Regions from separate parts of the Homo sapiens genome. Here regions 1 and 2 are each linked to region 3. Evidence: fine-mapped expression QTL. A gene starts in region 3. Each other region holds a variant in brackets. All regions are shown on one strand. Distances are from middle to middle.

Region 1 (8,156 bases), 200 kb before region 3:
ACACTATCTCAAAAACAGGATTTCTGTTAAAAACTTGACATTATTTTAAGAAAATAACTACAAACTGAGACATAAGCCATATATCTAAGGAATGGAATGGAAAAATATAAATTCTATGATAAAGGAGCAGGGAGAAAGGGACCCACCATTTGCCTTCCCATTTTGGTCCCTTTCCAGGAGAGCGAGCACATCTTGCGACAACGGCTCTCCACATCATCTAATTCAAGAATGCCTGCCAGATGGCCAGCACGTGATAGACAACTTCCCCAGGTTCTTCAGTAAGCTGAAGCCTTCTCTCTGTGGGGAATTCATTTTAAAATTCAAACTTTACTTTTCATGAAATGAATGAATTGTAGTAAGACACTAAATGCTAAGTGGTATTTATAAGTCTGAAGAAGCTAAGTTGTGCAGCCTCGAACAGGAGGAGGACCAGATGCCAAGTTCAGGGTTACCTTCCTTCGGAGGACCCCCCACCCGGCCCCCACCCAGTGAATGTTCAGGACTTGGCAAGAAATGCTAGAGGGGCAGTGCAGTTTAAACAATACATTTGGAAAAAGTTGAGTTCGGTCCCAGTTCTGCAGTCAAATACACAGTGAGATGGAGCTTTGAAGAGCTCCCTTGCAGGATCAATCATGGGCCTGCGTGTTTGATCACACAAAGTACTTGGGCCTGAGGGAGACTACTGCTACTCAGGGTCCCACGAAACCACACTGAGGGTCTGGGAGGGAGAAATGCAGTGGCCATAGCTCCTCCTGGAGTGCAGGAGGAAGGGTGGAGTGGGGCAGGAACCAGGGTGCTTATGGTGATTCTGGGGTTCCTGAGAGCACTTGGAAAAAACAATTTGGAAGCTGAATTATGCGAAGTCTGAGAATCTGTATGTGAAGCATCCAGAATACCAACACAGCAATTTCAAAGAAACTCCAACAATGTGAAAACACTTGGAAGATGGTTTAATGATGTTTTACAACAGAAATGAACTGTACAGTTACAGTAAGTTTAATATATATATAAAAAATTACAGCAGACAAATGCATCTACACAAAATCTACCACTTCATTCTGATTCACTGTCACCTACACAATCTTTCCCAAGCCTACAGCCCCTGCAGGCAGCCCTAGGAGGGGGAATCATCTAAAGGGCACTTTTGAGAGAGACAGCACCGCTCATATTCCCCGCCACCTCCTCAGGCTTCAGGAGGCATCAGCTAATTCCCCAAAATGTAAAGTTGCCTGTGTTTCAGGTTTTCAAAACCAAGAAAACGTGTGTCTCCCAGGGGCACAGATAACAAGGTCCAGCACGCAAGTTATCAGCTGATTCTTAGAAAATATTCCTATCAGAGGGGAAATATTTGGCTAACAGGCACTCTGGGGCAGTAAGGCTACACAATAGCCACCCAGAGTGCAGAGTTATCTAAGAGAAATGTAGAAGGACTCCCAATAAACCACCTCAGAATTGTCACTGCCTCATTCAAGCTGCTGGACAATTTTGGAAAGAATCATTTACACCACATCTTAAGTTTCCACAAAGAAGAACTCAAACTCACATTTTAAAGTACATAAAACAAAAAGTTCTAGGAGGCCGGGGGCCAATTCCCCTTGTGCCCCTCCTTTGACAACAGTGGACAAACACCCCTGAATTAATAATTAAGACAAAAAAGGAAGAAAAAAAAAGTGAGTTAAGATATTGAAAGAGAGAAAGAAAACATCTTTAGAAAAACACGATCACTGTCTCTTTAAAAGAAAACAAAATCCCAGTTGGGAACAGTAATGAGGAATATGCAATCTAAATTGACACCTGGTGGGAGATTATTATTGAATATTATGTACACTCAGAACTTTTTTCATTTTCTTTTTTATTATGAACACCTAGGCAGTGAAAACTGTTATGTTAATACATACATAGACACACCCAAAACATACAAAAATACTATTATTTCAAACTACTAAGAATAGGACAGTTCAATTATTTTCATGCTATGACTTTAAGAGCATTACACTGAAACAAACAAGAAGTTAAACGACATTTTTTTTTTAATATCCCAGAAATATACCAAAATATACATCTAAGCTTTGGAATTACTGAGGTTAGACTAATGCAAGTGCTGGGTAATCGTACTTAATACACGAGTCTAAGGTTCTGCAGGAAAGAAATTATCTTTGGTATCTGCATCAGGCTAATATTATTAACATTTGGATTTTGCTTTGGGATAGAGCTTGTGTGACCCAAGAACCAAGTACCCCCCTCCCCCAACCAACTGAGATTAAAAAGATCCATGTAAAAAGTTCCTTCATTTGCAATCCCCCCACCCCCCAAGTTAAAAAGTCACAGGCATCTACCTAGCACAAAAGGTTGTGAAGTACAATGCATAGTTGCACAGTGGTGCTGCAAAAAGGAAAGAAAACTACAATAAAGAGAAATGAAAAGCTTGATAATCTTTCTGCATGTTTTCTCACAAACAGGACAGCCACTTCCAAGCAGTTCCAGTACAGGAAAAGAAAAAAAGGCTCAGAAGGGCACCGTGGCGTGCATTCGCCCAGCCCCAGAGGTTAAAGCACCCAGCAGAGCAGCCAATCGTGCGCCAGTGTCTTCAACGTCCCCCACTCTGTGGAGTCCTCGGGCCAGTCCAGCAGCAGCTCCCACCCTCCCTAGGCCCTGTGCTAAGTCCCCATAGTGACCCTGGTTGGTGTAGGGTGGATGATGGTGGTGATGGGGTTTTTTGACTTTTGTTTTGGAAAATCTGAAATGCCAATTTGTTTCAGGGCATGCTCACAAGTTTGTGAGGGCCAAAGCTAGGGGCATGCACCTGTGCTGGACCCTGGAAGGTGGTAAGCAGCTTGCCTGCCCTTTCTGATCCAGTCAGAGGGTCCCCCCGCCCCACCTTCCCTGGCCTCACTCTTCTAAGTGCCAGGACACCACAGACTGGACTGATGCTGAAGACTTCCCTTTTCTTTGGTTCTTTTGTTTGTTTTGAGTTTATACAATCATTAAGAAATCTTTGGTTTTGGCTGGAAATTTGAAAAACAAAACAAAACAAAACAAAACAAAGAAACCACCCTCCCCTGGCTTATAGCAGCAGTATCATGACCTGGCTAAGCTTTTTGTCAGCATTAGGGGTGGGAATTGAAGGTTGGGAACTACATTCAAAGAAAAGGTGAAAGGGCTGGGGATGCAGCTTCTAGAGAGCCCATTGGATATAAGATTGTCAAATAATAATAATAATAATAATAAACTTAAATATTTGGATATTTTTGGTCATGTCAAAGGAAAAAAAGTGAAATGTGTATGCAGCAGTCAGCTTAAAGGAGCCTTTGGTGTCTTCCCTTCTACCCAAAGTCCTGAAAAGAAACAGAACCCTGAGGCCTCAGAGGAGAAGGGGTTGGCCTCTACCCCACCAAGGAAAAGGCAAGTACAGAAGTTGACGTGTGGCCAGCTGTCAGAAACACAGGGTGGGTTAGGGGTGTGGATAGCTGGCCAGCCCCTAAAGGCAGGGTGGCAGGGAAAGCAGATGTTAAGAGACCTGTGAAGACCCCTTGCAACAAAAAGGAATAGAAGATTGCAATTTGCCCTCAGTTTGCAGTAGCTTTTAAGCAGCGACATTCAGAGGCTTTAGGGGGTCCCACCCTAGGCTACAGGTCCCATGATGCTATAGGCCAGAGTTTAACATGACTGAGGAGGGAGGGCAGACTTGGCAACTCTGTAGGATTTCGAGAAAGTTAAAGCAAGTCACTCGGTCACGAGTTAGAAATGAGGTATACAACAGCTCCTGGACTTCTGGTGGGTAGAACAGCCCACGCTTACTCACCTAGCCTTCACTACTACCACAGATGAGGGGATGGAAGTACAGACTTATGCGGGAGGAGAGCGTTTCCTGCGGAGTGAGACCTCCTGCGGACTGAGCAATGCACACGTGCCCATGCACGCAGAGGTAAGAAGCTGGAAGTCTTTCTTTCCCCGACCTGACCTTAGGGAAGATACAACATTTATGTTGTCAAAAGCCAATGTTATAATATGATTGCAAAATCTTAGGCTTCCTGCACCAACCTGTTCCATGTTCTCCAACTGTTTGCAGTTTTAAACCTATTCAGGCTGGCACTAGTCCACTCTACTCTTACAAAGTGTGTGCCTTCTGCAGACTCACGCAGGAATGGAACCAAGGACATGGCATCCCCGACTGCCTACAACTACAGCCTTTTGTAGCAGACACTGTCATTTTAGCTTCTGAAAGTGCATTTCATTTCTTCCTATACTTTTAGACCATGAGACTCATTAAGGCTGGGTGGGAGCACAAAGTCTTTTCTCTACTTGGCTCTGTCCTTTTTCATTTGAAAGAGATCCCAATCTTAAGAAACTCAAGTGTTTGGACGTCTCATTTATACAC[A/G]GCGCTGTATCCAGCTGTCTGCCTGCAGACTTTGGGATATAATGTTTGAGAACTCAATGCCACTGCCAATTTATGAAAGAAGCCTTAAGCTGCTCTTGTGAAGCTGTGGCTAACTTATACAATGATGAACAAGTACACAAAGAAAACAAGGGAAAACTTTGCAGCAGTCCTCAATGTTTTTTACAGTAAATTAGTTTTGGGGTCTTAACTTTTTGACAGTGTCCTGGGTTTAAACCAGAAGGTGGCCCTGGGTGGTGGAGCCCTGTGCAGGGTGGGCAGATACAGGGACACAGAAACAATCATAAATCACATCTTCCCTACCAGGTCCAAGGGACCTTTGTTTCTGTGCTCAAAGTGGTGTTCCATTACACACACCTTGTTTTCCCAGAACTTCTGTTTCAAGTGCTCTAATCTTCAACATCCCTATTACCTACTTATAAACCTATCTAGCACTTTGACAAGTCATACAATATTAATACCACCTTTACATAATGTCAGAACAATAAGATTATTAGTAAAGCTTTCATGAAGTTCTGCAACCTAATCATTTTTGATGCAATATTCAGAGAGTGATACATTTCTTTACCCTCTCTCCCTTTCTGTGTCCTATCAATAGTACACCGAAACAATGAACTACCTGACTCCCTAGAGCCCATATATAAAAACATTTGGAACAAAACATTTATAGGAGAGTAAGGGAAGATCTTTTGGTTTTCCACGTAATCCTGTTCTTGAAAATTCTTATCTTTTACAGGAGACAGATGGAGATACCACATCTAAATATTGTCTGAACTCATATAGGCTGTGTTGGTTCTATTTAAAAGTATTAGATAAAGGGAAATAATGAAAAAATTCTACCCCTATCTTTTGCCCTCCCCAAATTTCTCAGCAATTCCAAGAACATCACTGCTAGATTGAGCAACTATCCATCTTTAAAGAGCCAGCAGAGCAAAACAAAATAAATCTCTTTTCCAAAGCCAGGATAACCAAGAAGACTTCCTTCAAAAAGCAGGGGACTGGGAAAAGGGGAAAAGGGAAGGAAAGAGATAAAGTAAAGCTTTTCCAAATTTTGGCTTTTTGCTCCTATTCCCTCTGCCTGTTTTGAAAACTTAAGGATAAGCAATGACATTAGCAGTGTCTTTGGTATCTAAACCAAATCCCACTTAAGTTCTGTGGGATCATTTATTTAAAAAAATAGCCTTTCTAGAGATACAGTCTATATCCGAACTCAGGGAGCCAAGAAAGTTTGTCCCAGAGTATGGGCAGAAAGGGCTTGTGATTTTTCCTAAGCCAGCATCATTTCTCATTCATGTTCCCACCAAGAATAATTCTCTCCTCAATCCCACCAACTAATCCTTAAGGTTCACACTTTGTATCACAGGGGTGAGGTGGGCAGGTTAGCTTTCAACTTCTTGGTTTGCTTTTTATCCTGTTTGTGTTTTTGGTCTAGAAAGAACTAGCCTTGGTATGAGAAAAGTAAGTAAGGTTTTAAAGTGTTGTGTTATTAGCACAACATTCAGTAACTTGACAGAGGGCAACACAAAGAACCTGTTTCACTTTAACTTTCCTAGATTTAAGATACATCAATCACTCACCTCTTGGCTCCAAATTAATTGGTGCATGTCTATGTCTGCCTCTGTTTCTCAACTGCACATCCAGGCATTCACGCATTCATCCTTTGCCTATGCTTTTGCTATGTACAGAGGTAATGAATCATTAGGAGAGGTTGGCAGGGTCTGGGGGGCATGGGCAACCATAGGAAGGGATGTAAATGCACCCTCAGGGTCCCTGAACCTACTGGACACCCCATATGTTACCTGCATGCCACCACACACTGCTGCAGACCAGACCACAGAGGCCAAAGCCAATCACAGGGAAAATCAAGTTTCCTTTGGCAAGACAGATATAAGAAAAAACAAACACACACACGAGCAATGTTTTCCTTCTAACATAATCAACATCTCCTCTTCCCCCACCCAACCCTCCCTAACCCTATAAATTGTAACCTATAAACAGGATCCCAAATACATACAGCATCAATCTTGTTTATCGATCATAATAAACATTAGTTCAACTAAATGCTACAGCTAGAATTATTTCCACTATTTATAAAATTTTTTCACTTATTTATTTGGTTTTTAGTTTAAAACCAGTTTTGCAACAATGCTAAGCTATTCTGAGGTATTTTATGAAGGTGCCAGAAGCTAGCTGTTACCCAAATTAAGGTACCACCATTCAATGAGAAAAAGAAGGGAAGGAAAGGAGATCCAGGTGACATAATCAACATAAAATTCACTCACATTTACTGCTTTTAGCTAAGGCCAAGAGTAGAAGGGCCAAAACAAGGAACTACTTAATGAATAAGGTTAGAAGAAAACTACAAAATTTTTTTTTAAAAGCTACAGTTCACAAACCATATAGAAAACTGGGTACAAACTGGATGCTCTGAGAAAAAATATATTCCCTGCCCTCCCAGTGGAATCCTTTCAAATACCTTACTGGAAATCTCAGGGGTGTCCTATTTATATTTAATCTCCTTGGACTAAGAAATGGATGATTGGCCTTTATGATGAAAGCAATTTATTTATCCTATTCCTGTCCAAGTTTACATTTGTATTGTGGACACCATCCATGCAAACCTATATAATAGCTGATCTCAGTTATTCTTCTTACAGAAATAGCAAAGAGGATTTTTCCCTTCTCAAAAGCCAAGTTTGTAAACGCTGAGAAAGATTTACCATTTTATAAAGTGTCATCCTCAAAATGTTGTAAAACTGAAAATGACATCAAATAGCCAGGACTATGAACAGCATCACACATTAAATGCTTTCCACACACACATAAAAGCAAACTCATATCAGTTATGAGCAAATTAACCCATCAATTCTTGTCCATTTTGGAAAATTTTAAATTTTGGGTCTTTAGTATTTTTCTCCCATTAGTATCAGTCATCTTTTAATGTTTTCAACTCTAATAAACAAACTTTAAGTTCATCAAGTTTAGGTGCTGATTTAATGAGAAAGTATTTGGCCAAGCTCTCCAAATGAATTGTTGGGGCCCTTCCTCAAACTGCAGACTGGTCTTCAGAAGGCCCCCCAAGAGCCAGGCCAGAGCCACCTGTCAGCGTGAATCCCCTGCCTCCTCCTTGCTACCACACCCTACACTCAGTGATACAGTGAGTCAGCAATACTACTGACTTCTCCCTGGCAGGGCTTCTCCTTTCTTGGGAAGAAACAACAGCAAGAGGCTTTTCCTCTGTCTTCCTATCTCAATGACCTTATCTTTTTTCTTGGTCAAGAATGTTTCGTGAGGATGACCTGGTTTGGGAACAGCTTTAGACTAAGAACAGAGAGTTCTATAAGCCAAGCGTTTATTCTACACTAATTGCAATGTATAATATCAGGATTTATCACTTTAAAAATTGACATGAGGATGGGCACAGTGGCTCATACCTGTAATCCCAGCACTTTGGGAGGCCAAGGCAGGCAGATCACCTAAGGTCAGGAGTTCAAAAAGCCTGGCCAACACGGAGAAATCCCGTCCCTACTAAAAATACAAAAATTAGCCGGGTGCGGTGGTGGGCGCCTGTAATCCCAGCTACTTGGGAGGCTGAAGCAGGAGAATTGCTTGAACCCGGGAGGCAGAGGTTGCAGTGAGCCGAGATCATGCCGTTGCACTCTAGCCTAGGCAACAGAGCAAGACCAGAAAAAAAAAAAAAAAAAAGACATGAATTCCCTATATTTGCCAATGTATCCAACTTTTCCAGCAAGTTAAAAAG
Region 2 (8,183 bases), 170 kb before region 3:
TAGATAGAAGTTCTAATGAACATACACCTATTAAACTTATTCATATTAACTTAGGATAAGTTATCCTTAAATATCTATAGTTTTTCATTTTTAAGATCTATTAATTGTGAATGAAATTAACAAAATACCAGTACAACCACATGTATTAGTAGGAATTTAACCTTTCTCCATGCTTCATGCTATCTAATTTGGATCTCACAGTAAGAAAGGCAGGTATTTCACAATGAAGGACCTTTAGCTTAAAGAAATCACATGATTTGCCCAATCACACAGTTTAAGTGGCAGAGCTGACAAAAACTCCTAATTCAGAGTCCTCCCAATGTGCTCAAGTCTTTTCTGAATTAGAGAAGTCAAAATTTTCTTAAAAGCTTTGTTATGATATTACCTGGTACAAAAAAATAATTGCCAAATATCTCTTGCATTAACTTAAGCTCCATAGCCTAACACTCAAGGTCTCTAGTGTTCCAGTCCCAAACTACTATTCCAGGCATACAGACACTACAATTTAACCAACCAATCTACTAGAGTGTCTCCTCATACACCCTATGGTTTCCCTCACTCCAGTGTTTCTCCCCCACTCTGAGGGGGAAACGCTCATGCATTTCCTCTGCTTAAAGTACTTTCCCCCCACCTTTTCTAGTCTGTGGAATTAATTCCTATGTATCCTATGGTAAGCTGCCACCTCTCTCATACTGAGTGCTTGCATGGATGTGATTCTAGTCTCTCCTGAACCCTGCAGAACTCTGGTTCTGTCTCCTATGTTAGTAACTTACTTACTTCACCTATTTATAATCATCCATAAGAGCAGAGGCTGACATGTCATCTTTTACCACCTACAGTTTCTACTAAGTACTAATGTTAAGTACTACACAGACAATCCCATGTACAGAAAAGTAAAATCCTCACTGACCTCCAAGAAACTCTTCTCTAAGGCCACACGGATGTTGGTCTCTATGCTGGTGCGTTTCTTCCTCCTACGGCTCAAGCCCTCAATTCCTGGAGAATTCAGGGCACTTGGGCTGGAGAGGGACGAATCAGATGAGAGGTTCTCTGTAAGAATGAAGAAAATACAGAAATAAAATTAGCTGAGCACAGTGATTCATGTGCATAATATGCATATTAACAACAAAACTGACAAAATAAGCTACATCCAAGTATGAAAAGGTTTTCACATAACCTACATTACAATATTGCTTATTGGCCGGGCATGGTGGTTCACACCTGTAATCCCAGCACTTTGGGAGGCTGAGGCGGGAGGATCACTTGAGGTCAGGAGTTCAAGACCAGCCTGGCTAAATGGTGAAACCCCATCTCTACCAAAAATACAAAAATTAGCTGGGCACAGTGGCGTGCGCCTGTGGTCCCAGTTACTTGGGAGGCTGAGGCAGGAGAATCACTTGAACCTGGGAGGTGGAGGCTGCAGTGACCTGAGATGGTGCCACTGCACTCCAGCCTGGACAACAGAGTGAGACCATGTCTCCCCCTACCCACCACCCATCCCCCCAATATATATATATTTACTACCATGGATATTTCTGCTGCCCTTATTGGCATTCTTTCTGCTAGGATGGTTGACAATATTACCACTATGTTTGGATTTCTGTTTCTGAGACAGAAGAGGTTTACTATTCCTATCCTTAAACTCAGCTCTATGTCTCCAGTTCTGTTTGTTTATAAGTTCTGGGGATAAAAGGAAGAAAGTTTCTTAGAAATTACTGAACGTTTAATATTTATCTTGTAAATGGCCTCTCATTTTATTGGTATAATCTAGGGTAAAAAGAAAAGAAACAAATGAAATATTTATAAATTCTCTGAAGTTAAATCACAGGGTTCTATAATTTCACAGTTTAATAACCTTGGGCATGTCATACACATCTGAGTTTGTTTCTGCTACACGTAAAATAAGATGGAAACAGTAAACCAGTGGTTCTTATCTGTGGACTTGGGAAACAGATGCCTAGGCCTCACCCATAGCTACTGAATAAAACTGTCCAAGGATGCGTGTTTCAGGTTTGTCTTTTCCAAAGGCCTAATTTTTGTTCATATCTACAATAAGAACCATAGTTTAAGGGATCTACATGACTCCTACAGCTTTCATAGTCTATGATCCTGTGACTCAAAATTCCAATCTTCCAAAAGGAACTCTCAGCACAAAAAAACGTAAGACAAAGCTAGTAGTCCAACTTTTCTGAATGAAATGTGTGGTCATTTGAAATAACAAAAGCAGAACTATTGCAAGAACAAGTTCTATGATAATTCATCAAGGAAGAAACAATAAGCTTCTACTTCAAGCTTATCTAAATACAAAAGCCTTACTTATCCTATTCCTTCAACTGTGTGTGTGTGTGTGTGTGTGTTCCTAATCCTGGCTCAAATACAAGAGTATTTCAGGCTAAAAATTACGGCTAATTATTTATACTGTAATTACTAGAATATTTAAATGAATCAGCTTTCTGATTTATATCACCATAATTTATAATGATCCTCCCAGGATTAGTAAGCTTCAAGGTTCTGTAACAACAAAAATAGAGTAAGAAATATAAACCCCAATTTATATAACAATCCCCATGTAAAATTCCAATGAATGACAAAGAAATGTCTTATACAGTCACTTACCTGCATCATTTAGCCACTTCTCTAAAAGTGGCTTCAACTTGCACATGTTCTTAAAGCTGAGGTTCAAGGCTTCAAATCGAGAGATGGTAGTTTGGCTGAAGTCATTTCCATATAGTTTCCCCATAGCGAGCCCAACATCACCCTACACACAATACAGAGCAGGAGAAGAGGAGAGGAAAGACAGAGTTATCTCACCAGTGCTTAAAGCCTTCACTCTGGGGTGTTGCTCCAATAACTGCTTTAGACAAGGAGTCAGTAATTATTCCACTTACGGGGTCCCACATAAACTCCATCCCTAAGCCAGTCACAGTGTTACTGTGAGGACTCTTTTAGGCCTGATCGTTACAATGTTCAATACTGTCCCACATACTTTCCCATTTTGAATCTCTTCTTGCCACCTTATGTAATCATGGAGATACCAAAATTTCAACTAGGTATCAAAAATAGTGCTAATATTCTAACAAGCCCCTTAATTGATACAACCAAAGTGATTTAAGTAATTTTTAAAAATGTATTTATCTGGTCTGGGCACAGTGGCTCACACCTTTAATCCCAGCATTTTGGGAAGCCTAGGCCTACATGGGTGGAATGCTTGAGCCCAGGATTTCCAGACCAGCCTGGAGAACATGGCAAAACATCTACAAAAAATACAAATATTAGGCAGGTATGGTGGCGTGTGCCTGTAGTCCTAGCCATTTGGGAGGCTGAGGTGGAAGGATCGCTTGAGCCCAGGAGGTCAAGG[C/T]GGTAGCAAGCCGTGATCATGGCACCGCACTCCAGTCTGGGTGACAGAGCGAGATCCTGTCTCAAAAAAAGAAAAAAATTTAAAAAAGAAAAATAAAAATAAATTTATCTGTATCACCTACAGATATTATGTATAACTCTCTAGATAACCCAAGATATTTACGAACTAATCAAACTTCCCAAAAATCACTTTAAAAATTAGAAATCATCTCTTTTCTTCTTTTCCCTATCAAGTATTTCTGGACGCAGTGAAAAAAAAATCTATTTTCACTCCTAGTTTGGATTTCAAAGTTAGTTACAAAAAACAGGTATTCTAAAAGACTACTTTTGTAACCATCATAGAAATAGAAATTCACAGTAGAGAGGTTTGACCCATTTAGTCAAACCTTCATGGGCAATGGAAACTTAGTAACCTTATAGCAATAGAACAATGATGCCCTGAATATATTACAAAAGATGTCTTTCTCTATAAGCCTATAACCTTTGAAATGTATACAGAGCTTTTCTTCTTGCTGAATCTCTCTTGATCAAACTGGGAAAAAAGCGTAAGATAGTTGCTTTATATACAGGAAACAGAGGCTCACGGAGTTTAAATGATTCACCCATTCATTTCAATTAGTTTAGTGACAGGGCAGAAAGGCAACATCATTTCTGGTCCAAAGTACTATACAACTAATCCTACTATGAGACAGCCAACTCTCAACTATCCTGGCAACACTTGTTTGAACTGGGATTATCCCAGTCTTTTGATTCCCCCCTACCCCTAAATCCATCTTTTGAACACTACATTTTTTATTAGCACATTGAATACTACATTTTTTATTAGGTGGTAGTTGGGTTAAAAAAGTAACATATTTTTAAAACCCCATTTTCTTTTTGGTGAGCAACTTCTGATAAAAAGTTTAACAGATGAGAAATATTGAAATGTAAGACAAAATGAGGCACCCAGAATACCTGAACTTCAAGTGATTGATATCCTCTGCCTTCCCATATAGCCACCAGCCACAAGTGGCTATTTAAATTAATTAAAACCCAATAAATTAAAAATTCAGTTCTTCAGCATCACTAGCCCTTCCAAGTGCTCAATAGCCATAAGTAGACAGTGGCTATTGTATTGGACATCCCATGTCCAATGTACAGAACACCCCATCATCACAGAAAGTTTTAATGACAGTTCTGAATATACTGAAGTAGACTGTTTATTGATTTCATTCCAATTACCATAAAACTGCAAGAATCAGAATCAGTGGTGAGCAGGGCATAAATGCTATCCATTATACTGTATACAAATATGTCTAAAGACACAGATGATTATGTTTATCTATACCTGTATCTCTATATATTTATTAAAATGTTACTTCATTCAGGCAGGGCACGGTGGCTCACAACTGTAATCCCAGCACTTTAAGAGGCCCAGGCGGGTGGATTATTTGAGGTCAGGAGTTCGAGACCAGCCTGGCCAACATGGCAAAACCCCCGTCTCTGTTAAAAATACAAAAATTAGTTGGGTGTGGTGGCACACCCCTGTAATCCCAGCTACTCAGAAGGCTGAGGCACGAGAACTGCTTGAAACCTGGGAGGCAGAGGTTGCAGTGAGCCGAGATCATGCCACTGCACTCCAGCCTGGGTGACAAAGTGAGACTCTGTCTCAAAAAAATAAATAAAATAAAATAAAATAAAATAAAATAAAATAAAATAAAATGTTACTTCATTCAATCAAATATTCACTAAGTGCCTACTATATGTCAAGCATTGAACTTATGCATTGTGTATCACATATATTCATGTCATGGTCAGCTTGTTTAGATTACAGCTGGTGCCAACTAAACCTTGCAATTCTTTGAGTATATAAACTTATGTAGCAGTTAGATGGCAATAAGTGTTTTCTGGCATAGTAACTGCACAATAAGCTACAAATTTTCACAAACTTCTGTCTTATTATAAAAGTAACAATTTAACAAGCAAAAAATAAGTCAACAGCCTTGGAAACAGAAGGCCCCATCTCTACCAAACACAAAAAAATTAGCTGTGTGTGGTGCATGTGCCTGTAGTCCCAGATACTTGGAAGGCTGAGGTGGGAGGATCACTTGACCCCAGAAGTTTGAGGCTGCAGTGAGCTATAATTGTGCCACTGCACTCCAGCCAGAGCCAAGAGAGTGAGACCCTCTCTCTAAAAAAAATAAATAAATAAGTAAATAAAATATATATTAAAAAATCATGACAGTAATTATAAGAAATGATACTTTAAGGTGGTGGCTGGAAATAAAGCTATGCCATTCACTAACTAGAACCATGATAATAAATAATAAACTCACTTTATCATTTATTAATATGTTTTATTTCACATTTAAATTGCTTAATTGAATAAAAAGCAACAGACTCCTCAGTTAACATACTAATTTTCATTAATTCGGTACAGGCTTGGTTTAATGCTCTTTCGTGATAATCCAACTCACAACCATCTTGGGTTATCACTCACAAAAGTAAATGTTTTAAGTAGTCGATTCATATATAATCTTAACTATATTATATCCCTTTGATATTTTTAAAAAGAACATAACAAAAAAGGAACAAAAACTGAGACTGGGAAATAATGAATGTACCACATGTGATAAATGTATTATGCTATGACATGTTTTCTAATTATGCAAAGACAGCCATGGTAATCCTTTAATAAGCAATTATGAAATTAGAAAATAACTTTAAAACATCTAATAATGTGTATATTTACACAGAGAATAGAGCTTTTTTTGTTTCAGCAAATAACTTTAATGGCTAAAACTTTGTGTGTGTATATAAATAAATTGGACACAGAGCAACCTTTGAATAACTAAAATTGAAGTATCTGACTTAAAAACAGAGGTTGATAGACTGATTTTCCATTCTGCAGCAGTAGTATGTACTTTAACCCACATAGTCCAAGTTTGTGAACCATTGCCACTGCTGTCTCAAAGTCATTTCGAAAAATAAGGAATGGTCATGCCAAAAAATAGGATAAAACCACAAAACAAAACACCAGACCATAGGGAAGCTCCTTTACCTGGAGAGATGTGCGGAGGGAGAGAAAAACATAACACTGGCAATATGTTGGGTCAAATGCAGAAAGGCAAACCACTATTTGAGTAAAAGATAAGGATTTTTAAAAGCCTTAACATCTTTGGCATATCACTTACGCAACAATCTCTCAGGGAACCCCAGAGTATGCTGTGCTAATAGTTTAAAACTTGAGGCACTGCTAAATATGCTAACCTTATACTTATTTCAGCTTTGTAACTTACTCATATCAATCTAGTTCTATGTTTAGCTTTCTTTCTTTCTTTTTTTTTTTTTTTGAGACAGAGTCTGGCTCTGTCACCCCCAAAGCTGGTGTGCAGTGGCGTGATCTTGGCTCACTGCAACCTCCACCTCCCAGGTTGAAGCCACTGTCCCTGCCTCAGCCTCCTGATTAGCTGGGATTACAGGCGCCCGCCAGCACGCCCGGCTAATTTTTGTATTTTTTAGTAGAGACGGGGTTTCGCCATGTTGGCCAGGCTGGTCTTGAACTCCTGACCTCAGGTGATCCACCTGCCTCGGCCTCCCAAAGTGCTGGGATTACAGGTGTGAGCCACTGTGCCCGGCCTAGCTTTCTTTTTAAAACAGGTCAGATCATTTAAGATGCTTTGAAAGTATTAAAATGTTTCTGGATAATTTGCTTCTTCACAAGTCAAACTCCTCACAAATGTAACTGTATTTCCTCTAAAATCATGCCTATTTAAAAAATCATTACATATTCCCCAACACAATTGATTTCTTTGAGCAAAAATGAATTCCCAAAGAAATATAAGCCTGGGCTGGGCCTGGTGGCTCACACCTGTAATCTTAGCACTTTGGGAAGCTGACGTGGGTGGATTTGGTTGAGCCCAGGAGTTCGAGACCAGCTTGGGCAACATGACAAGACCTTGTCTCTACAAAAATTAGCCGGGTGTGGTGGTGTGCCTGAGTCCCAGCTACTCAGGAGACAGAAGTGGGAGAATCCCTTGACCCCTGGAGGTCAAGGCTGCAGTGAGCCGTGATCATGCCACTGTACTCCAGCCTGGGTGACAGACCAAGGCCCTGTCTCAAAAAAAAAAAAAAAAAAAAAAAAAAAAGATATATATAAAGATATATATAAATGTGTTCTTAAAAACACCCATAGTACATTTGGGGATGCTACCCTTGGATTTTGACCTACCAGGCCAGGTGGAGCATTACCGTACTTTCAACACAAAATAATTTGAGTAATATTTAACTAGTGGCTTAAAAACTTTAAATTATATTCCCTGGAAAGAAAATAACAGATTTCTCCTGATTCCATAAAGGCACCCAGTCTAATCCATACTTCAGTTTTTTTTTACCTAATGATCTTATACCATTTTACATAAATTTCATTCAGTTTAATTCCTTGCCTGCTTTAAAAGTATTATTTGCAGGCTGGGCGCAGTGGCTCACACCTGTAATCCTAGCACTTTGGGAGGCCAAGGCGGGAGGGTTGATTGAGGCCAAGAGTTCAAGACCAACCTGGCCAACATAGCGAGACCCTGTCTCTAAAAAAATATATTATTTATGACAGGTTAATCAAAGAGTAAGTCAGTGGTAGTGCTTAAAACAAACAAAAATGCTACATATCCAGACAACTGTTTAAACCATTAAATATATTCACCCTTCTTTAAAAGTCCTCGGTTAGCTGACAAATTCCAGGAAATTAATTTGGATTTTGGTTAATTTGGGGTTTTCATCTTCTATAGATTCTTGCTCGATTAACTGGTTTTAGCATAGGCTTAGAGAGTATGCGTGCCTGTGCTTGCATG
Region 3 (8,183 bases):
TTTTAAAATCACTAATCAAAACAAAATGAACAAACTTGTCCAGACTAAGATAAATCCAAAAAGAATTCTGAATTTTTTTTAAAAAATCTGTTTTAAAAGCACATGCTTTCCTGTGAGTATTCTACCTTATTTTCAACATTATCATTTCCACCTTAAAGAATACACAGCCCTCATTCTCAACTCTGCTTTATTCACTGAAATGGATTCTAAGGCAAATGGTCTCTCCATTAGCCTAAGCCATGCTCTGATTAAGAAACACAGTTTCTTATAAAAGTCTGGGGGATCACAACAAACATTTATATGGGTCACTTCTATGACTATCTATCTAAAACCCAAATACTCCATTTGAGAATTTTGAGGAAATGAATTTTTACAATAGCATTAAAAGTGAACCAAAATATAAGGCCAGTTAACAACATCCATCCTTTTCTGTATTACAAAAACTGTAACAGCGAAATTTTGCTTGTAAAATCCAATGTACATTTTATCATTTTGTATAAAATATCTACGGCCTCAGTAGTGATTAAATTGCAGCTATAAAGGAAATTGACCCGAAATAAATGGTTTCCCTATGAGAAGGCTTCACTGCTACACTTCACCTCAGGACAATAAATCAAATTAACTGCACCTTGTCCTCTGTCCAATGACATCATCAGTTTGACCACATCTTGGGAATCGGGTGCAAAAACATATGCTATTTAAGGCATGAAATTATATTGCTGCTTTTTGTCCATCTGACCTCATACTTCAGGTCTCTGAAGCAGTCATTCACCTGAAGGTTCTCTTAAAAGCTACAGATTTTTTTTTTTCCTGCTGCATTCAGGGCCTGCCTACTGTGAGTGAAAGAAGAAAAATGGTGAGAACTGGTTATCTGAAATTAGCTTGCGTTTAATCCATCAAACCTAGAATTTTGTTACAAATTAAACTGAAGACCAAAGTCCCACAAAATACATAGCTAGCCACTCACCAAAATGTCTTAACATAATTTCAAAGGTTTAACACATTAGTGTTAAACCCCACTCCTCTAATACTTCCCTCGACTACGCAGCGGTAAACATCCACCAGTGACAGGCAACACTAGTCACACTCACACTCACACACACCCCTACACAAAATAAAAATGTTAAAAGAAAATTTTACCACAGGAAAGACCAAAAATCAAAATTACTGTTTCCTCTAAACAGTAAAAGTTAATCTGCCTCTCACAAGCCAACTGTCCTAAGTCTAGATAAAACATAACATCAATTCTGACAACTTAAAGAGGAGGGGCGGGTGTGCTGGGAGGAGAATAAGTTCCAAGATCAGGGTAAACGCAATGCCTATGTTTATTCTTCTCTTTTCACTCATTTAATCATGACACAAATACTCAAAGAAAACATAACCCCATTTTTTTGTTTTCAGTAGTGCTACAATTAAAATAAGCAAGTCTATGACAATGATAGCACAAAATTAACGTCAGCTCCATTTTAAATTAGAATGAAGATGTCAGAAAGGTAGCACCACACCAAGAAATTATGAAACTGTTGTTAATTGGAATTTCTAATATTTAGCTACTCCACAACTCCTAGAGGAAAAAAAAAGTGTCAGTTTTACAAATACTACAGACCTTTACAAAGCCTTAAAGTATTTAACATGGGGGTGGGGAGCAACCGGGGTACCCATCCCCAAAACAAAGTGATTTGGATTAAACCAAAATAGATTTCATAGGCTCTGAAAATAAAATACAGGACAGATTTTTCCCCCTAGGCCCAATACTACTGCAAAGTATAAGAAAGTCTTTTTAAGAGAAAACAAACCATCACAGAGTTGATACTTAGCTAGGACCTGTTTTAATGCTAGTAAAGCCCCAAGAGAGTTTGTTTTGCCCGCAGAGGAGGGGAAAGTGTGTGGAAGTTGGTGGAGGTAGTCATTTTGGTTATTAGTAAATAAATCAAGCAGCAGAGAACATGAGGCCTAGGCAACTGCTAGAGAAGCCAAGGCCCAGCTTCCCCCCTCTCTTCCCAGCACGGCCTGGGTTTGATCTCAGAGCCCTGCGGATTGCCAAGGAAAAAAAAAATCATATCGAACCACAAAAGCACATGGGGCGAATGTAAAATATAAACACGGCGTTGGGCTGTGAGTGGCTGTTATTAAAGGTCTGAATTACTAAACATGAGAGGCGGGGAAAGCCAGGCGGCCATTTCAATAATATAAACCTCCCCGAATTAGACATTATTCAAATGAGAAGAGGTTCAGCTAAGCAGAGAGTAAAGACGACCCAGCACACAGCGAGAAAACACCGCCACAGAAGAAGGGAGGGGGATCCCCGTCCCTCCCCACCGACTCCCAACAGGAGAGAGGAAATCGAGAATACGATCAACTTGTCAGGCCAGCCCATTCTGGGGCAGGAGGGCAGCCCTTTACATCCAAGTTCTCGGGAGGCCTCTGGGCGCTTCTGGGGCCTCGGAGCGAGAGGCCCCGGAGGGCCACCCGCCCCGTGCGTCCCGGTCAGGCGCAGGGGGTGGGGGGAACGGAGGGGGGGCAGCGGGGAGGGGCAAAGGGAGACGGAGGTCAGACCACGCCAGGCACCTCCAGCCCAACTCGCCCGCGAAGCCCCGGCCGACAACGCAAAGGGGCTGCCGACCGCCGGCCGGGGGCGCGCGGGCCGCCCCAGAGGACATCCCCTCGGAAGGAACTTGCCCCAAGGACTCCTTCCAATCCAGTCCACCCCCCAGGGGGGGCACGCAGACCCCTGCGCGGGTTCCCCACCCCCGCCGCCCCAGGCCACCTCGCAGCGCCCACGACCGCTCACCCCTACCCACCTAGAGAGCAGGCCTGGCTTGGGTCAGGCCACCACATTGGGGACCAGTGGGGCGAGGCCGAAGTGCCTGGGGCCGTGACCCCCGGGCTCAGCCCCGCGCGGGGCGCGGGCAGGGAGCTCTCCCCGCGCGCACCCCCGGTTGCCCTGAGGGCCGCCCCCCAAGGCGGGCAGCGCCCCCCCGCCCGGGCCCGCTCCCGGGGGAAGACGCGTGCGGGTGTCCGGCCGCCGGGGTCCGCTCCGGCCCCGCCGCCTCCCCGGCATTGTGCTCGCCGCCGCCTCCATCCCCCTTCACGCCCCCCACCCCGCGCCCGCCCGGCCCCGGCCGCCCGCCCGCGCCCTACTGCGCCCCGCCGGCCCAGCAGCTATGAATATGTAAAATGTCTTTATTGTCCTCTCCCTCTGCCCCGGCCCCGCCGCCCCGCCGCGGACCCGCTCGGGTTCGGGCACGGCGGCGAGGAGGCGGCAGCGGCGGCCGGCAGAGGAGGAGGGCCGGTGCCGACGGGCAGACGGCGAGCGGCGGCGGGGTGGGCCGGGTGCAGGAGGAGGGCAGTGGATCGCAGCCCCCTTTGCCCCTTGTCTTCCCCCTCCGCCTGGCCGCTCCGAGCCTCTTTCCCCCTCCGCTCAGCGCCCGGCGGGGGCTCAATGCTCCCCGGCCCCCCATCTCCCCGCCGTTAATTATAATAATCCTGAGTACTAATAAATTATGCTAAGTCGCGGGGGGGGGCAGCGGGAGCCGGGGTTGAGTATGAATATGAATATGTAAAATGCTGTAATGATTACCTGCTGCTGCTGCCGCCGCGGCTGAACTCTCATCTTGACTCGCTGCTCCTCCGTCCGCCATTTTGAATATTTTAACCAAAATCGCCCGGTCGATAAACCCTCCCTCGCTCTGGCTCCCCTCCCCCCTCCCGCCCTGCTTGCCTCCTCCCTCCTCTCCGCCCCCTCCCGCTCCTTCCTCTCCCCGGGCGCGCGCCAGGGGGCGCGCGAGGCCGGCTCTGTTCGCCCCGGCCCCCTCAGAAGAGCTCCACCCCCTTCCCGCGCTCTGCGCACGCGCCTTCGGGGCGCTGTGGCCCTTCGGTAGCTAAAGCAGCGCCCTCAATCAGCCAGGCACCCTGTGGCTTCATTTTTCGTCTCGGCTCTGCGCATGCGCGCCTTTCTCCTGCCGCCAGAAGTGTCGCCGGCGCATGCGCTCCCTCTAGCTCAGAACCAGATTATATAGTATCCCGGGCGCCTGTGTCTTCTTACACTTCTCCCTTTTCCTCCCGCCTTGCTTCCCTCCTGGCTTCGCTCCGGTCTCCCCCAGTGGCCTGTGGCATTGTAAAAGCACGGCAAGGAGCGCAGCGGCCAGAAACGTGGGGGCGCGTGGAAGGGCAGTGAGCGGCCCGCGTGCCCTGTGCTCCGCACTTTCTTCAGGGTTTCCGCGCAGTTGAAACATTGGCAACAATGGATAAGCCGCTCCTCGCTAGGTAATTTCCGGCCCTCTGGGCAGGTAGGGGCGGAAACGACCGCCACGGGAGCCGGGCATGAGGCACCTGCTGAGCCACACGCGGGCCTCCCGCTTTAAATTTGAATCCGAGCTAATCCCCGCCCCCGGCTCTGCTAGTGCAGGAGACCCGGCCCCGGCAAACGCGAGGGGGAGTGTCGTGTGATTGTTTTAATTAGCCCTAAATCTCTTCTGCTCTACTTGCTTCTAACGCCAGGCTGGCTTCCTCGGGAGCTAGGCGTCTTATTAAGTCGCTAATTTCCGCCCTACCCTTCCTTTCTGCCTTCACGCCCCTCTAACGCCGCTCCCCCCAATCGAAACAGACCCCATATTCTGAGGCTTCCCCCCGCGCCTTCTTCCCGCCTTGGAACACCTTTTAAAACCTAGCAGTAAGCTGATGACTAATAAAAATGTCGAAATCGTAACTTCATCGTGAATTTTATTTTGCTGTGTTTCTCAGAGTAAATATGGTATTGGGGAAAGGTTTCGCGTTGCACATATCTTTCTTGGTAACTAGACATAATGTTGCTGAGTTTTCTTTATCTTAAATGGCGAAATTCCCTGGACAAAGTCCCAGGTCTAATTATTTTACGAATTTTTAAAGCCCTATTTTTGTTTGTTTGTTTGTTTTTTAAGAATAGAAAGGTGTATTTCATGGTAAGCAAAGTTTAAAAAAAATCAGCTCTAGTTAATCTGTCTTGAGAGATATGACTGAAGTTTAAATTGGGTAGAACTGCTGGTTCTACAATTAAAAACAAAACTGATTTCCAAGTGAGTGCAATTATTTTAATGGGTAAAGTTTTAATCATCAGTCCTAGAATGCTCGTTGGACTCCTTTAACTGTGCAAGTACAGTTAAAGCTATTGTCAGTGACAGGCAACGATTTGGGGGTGGGATTGATTTGTTCGTGGTAATTAAGCCTTAGGGTGTGTGCATGACTGTTTGAACCAAATAATTAGACCGCCCTGTAATCTAATTATTTAGAGCCACGCCAACCAGCACACTTAAGGAAATGAAATATTTAACTAGTTAATCTGGAAATATGGCCTAAGTTATTTTCACCAGCATTACTGTAAGGGAAGTCTCAGAATTGACAACCTTATTGGAAATAGTTAAGTACATGCCCCTGCTCTGGGGACCACAAATTTGAAATCATCTCCATTAAGAAAAAGAGCTCAAATACCCTCATTTAATTTCCTGTCTTCTATTTAATCCTAGTTTTGCTCTTTGGTTCAAAAAGTATATTAATATGACCTTCGGAAAGTCATTGAAGCTAGTGTATGTGTTATGCATTCTTTACTGTTTCACTTCTATAAAAGGAAATTTTCATGGAAAGGATTTTTATTTAAGGAAGGATAGTTCTGTGAGAACAAAAATAGCTTAAAATAGACTGTATCAAAGTTTCATTTTCCTCCTAATGAGTTATTTATGTTTCCAGCTGTCCCCAGTGCCTAGCACAATGCCTGGGCATAGTAGGTGTTCATATTTGTTGAAGAAAAATAGTGAATATACAGTTATGTATGTTAGGATTATTTGTAAAATTAATGTCATTTATTCAATAAAAAATTGTAAACATCTGCATTCTCATGAACTTACTAGGTGCTAAAGATAGGAAAATGTGTAAGACACTACTTTAACCTCAGCAAACTCACATATATCACTTTAAAAAAGAAAAAAAAAAACCCTTACAATACCCTGGGAGGTAGAAACTCTTTATCCCAGTTATCTAGGATGGGAAGATTGAGGCATAGAGATGTCAAGTAACTTGCCCAGTGTCACACCACTATTAAGTGTTAGAGCTAAAATTCAAACACAGGCAAGGGACCGTACTCTTAACCACTACACTAAGTTATTTGCTTTGGGTCAGGCAAAATCTTGGAGGTACATGTATTAGACTGTTCGTGCATTGCTATAAAGAAATACCTGACACTTGGTAACTTACAAGAAAAGAGGTTTAATTGACTCATGGGTCTGTAGGCTATACAGGAAGCATAGCACTGGGAAGGACTATGTTTCTGGGGAAGACTCTGGAAGCTTACAGTCGTGGTGAAGGCCAAGCAGGAGCTTGTACATCACACAGGAGAACAGGAGCAAGAGAAAGGGTAGGGGGGCAGGTGCCACACACTTTTACAAGAACTCACTGTCATGAGGACAGCACCAAGGCGATGGTGCTAAACCATTCATGAGAAATCTACCCCAATGATCCAGACACCTCTGTATTAGTCTGTTCTTCCACTGCTATAAAGAAATACCTGAGATGGGGTAATTTACAAAGAGGTGTAATTAGCTCACAGTTCCACAAGCTGTGAGATACACACTTAACCAGATCTCATGAGAACTCACTGTCACCAGAACAGCAAGGGGGAAATCCACCCCCATGATCCAATCACCTCCCTCCAGGCCCCACAACCAAAATTGGGGATTATAATTTGACATGAGATTTGGTGGGGTCACAGATTAAACCATATGGGTACATATAGTTCAGTATAGGAAGGGAACAACACATTAACAAACAATGTCCTTGTATATAATGTCATAATAAAAATGTAGGCCAGGTGCAGTAGTTGCACCTAAAATCCTACCACTTTGGAAGACTGAGGCAGGAGGATTGCTTGACACCAGGAGTTCAAGACCAACCTGGGCAACACAGTCCCTGTCTCTACAAAAAGCCAAAAGTTAAGGTGGGTGTGGTGGCACACACCTATGGTCCCAGCTCCTTAGCTCCTTGGGAGGCTGAGGTGAGGGATGAGGACTGCTTGAGGGCAGGAGTTCGAGGCTGCAGTGAGCTATGATGGTGCCACTGCACTCCTACCTGGGTGACAGAGTGAGACTCTGTCTCAAAAAAATGATTTTAATAAATAAATACAAATAAAAAGGTATATGTGGATGAGAACTTAACTTCACTTAGAAACAAATAGCAACTATTATAATTGCCAAAAAGTAGAAACAATTCAAATGTTTTTCATATGAATGAATAAAACATTCATACCATGGAATACTACTCAGCAATTGAAAAGAATGAACTACTATCATATACAACAACTTCAATGAATCTCAAAGGCATTATGCTGACTGAAAGAGGCCAGTCTCAAAAGGTTATATACCATGTACTATATGGTTCCATCTGTATGACATTAATGAGATAACAAAACTATAGTGATGGAAAACAGATCAGTGTTTGCCAGGAGATAGTTACAGGGGAAGATGTGATTATAAGGGATAGGCACAAGGGAAGTTTGGAGGAGGGGGGTGGTTAATGGAGTTGTTCTGTATCCTGAGTATGGTAGTGGTAACACAAATCTGTACATATAGTAAAATACACACATGGCACAGTAGTGCAGGGGAGTGGTGGTTACTTCTGCCTAGCTGTTACCATTACTGGATGAATGTTCCTTAGTAACAGCCCTAAAGTGTCAACAGGAATGTGTTCCATCTGTCTTGCTAAAGTGCAACACACAGGCTCCCTTGCAGCTAGGTGTGGCCATGTGTGACAAAATTTTGACTATTGAATTATAAAGAGTTAATTTGGTGGGATTTCTGGGAATGCTTTTTCAAGAAGCAAGTTTTGGGAGGCCGAGGCGGGAGGATTGCTTGAGGCCAGGAGTTCAGGGCCAGCCCTGACAACATATGAGACTGTGACTCTACAGAAAATATAAAAATTAGCTGGATGTGGTGGCACATGCCTGTAGTCCCAGCTACTTGAGAGGCTTAGGTGGGAGGATCACTTGAGCCTGGAAGGTTAAGACTGCAGTGAGCCTTAATCTCACCACTGCAGTCCAACCTGGGCGACAGAGCAAGACTCTGTCTCAAAAAAATAAAACAAGCAAGTTTATTCTTCCTCCTTTTTTTGTCTTCCTGCTGCCCAGAATGCAGATGTGAAGACTGAAATACCTGCAGTGT

What was found. PIP is the estimated chance that this variant, and not a neighbour inherited with it, causes the effect.
Region 1: its variant is the best candidate, but not a certain one, in a credible set for the expression of POU2F1 in whole blood (INTERVAL, PIP 0.69).
Region 2: its variant is the best candidate, but not a certain one, in a credible set for the expression of POU2F1 in whole blood (TOPMed, PIP 0.74).

Annotation. Positions count from the first base shown.
Region 1 is chr1:167,420,114-167,428,269 of GRCh38, reverse strand. POU2F1 (POU class 2 homeobox 1) reads right to left here. Exons shown (of 16, transcript NM_002697.4): 16 at 930-8,156. Among named protein-coding and RNA genes, the nearest start is that of CD247, 94 kb to the left of the region's middle. RefSeq lists enhancers at 2,080-3,050, 3,051-4,021. The variant A/G (reference allele first, on the strand shown) is at 4,379.
Region 2 is chr1:167,390,861-167,399,043 of GRCh38, reverse strand. POU2F1 (POU class 2 homeobox 1) reads right to left here. Exons shown (of 16, transcript NM_002697.4): 10 at 2,617-2,758; 11 at 911-1,050. Among named protein-coding and RNA genes, the nearest start is that of CD247, 120 kb to the left of the region's middle. The variant C/T (reference allele first, on the strand shown) is at 3,359.
Region 3 is chr1:167,216,356-167,224,538 of GRCh38, reverse strand. POU2F1 (POU class 2 homeobox 1) reads right to left here and starts at 3,653. Exons shown (of 16, transcript NM_002697.4): 1 at 3,581-3,653. The coding sequence starts at 3,641. POU2F1-DT (POU2F1 divergent transcript) reads left to right here and starts at 4,003. Exons shown (of 1, transcript NR_185889.1): 1 at 4,003-4,708. RefSeq lists enhancers at 2,251-2,430, 3,961-4,070 and silencers at 2,491-2,670, 2,681-2,960, 3,181-3,330, 3,681-3,780.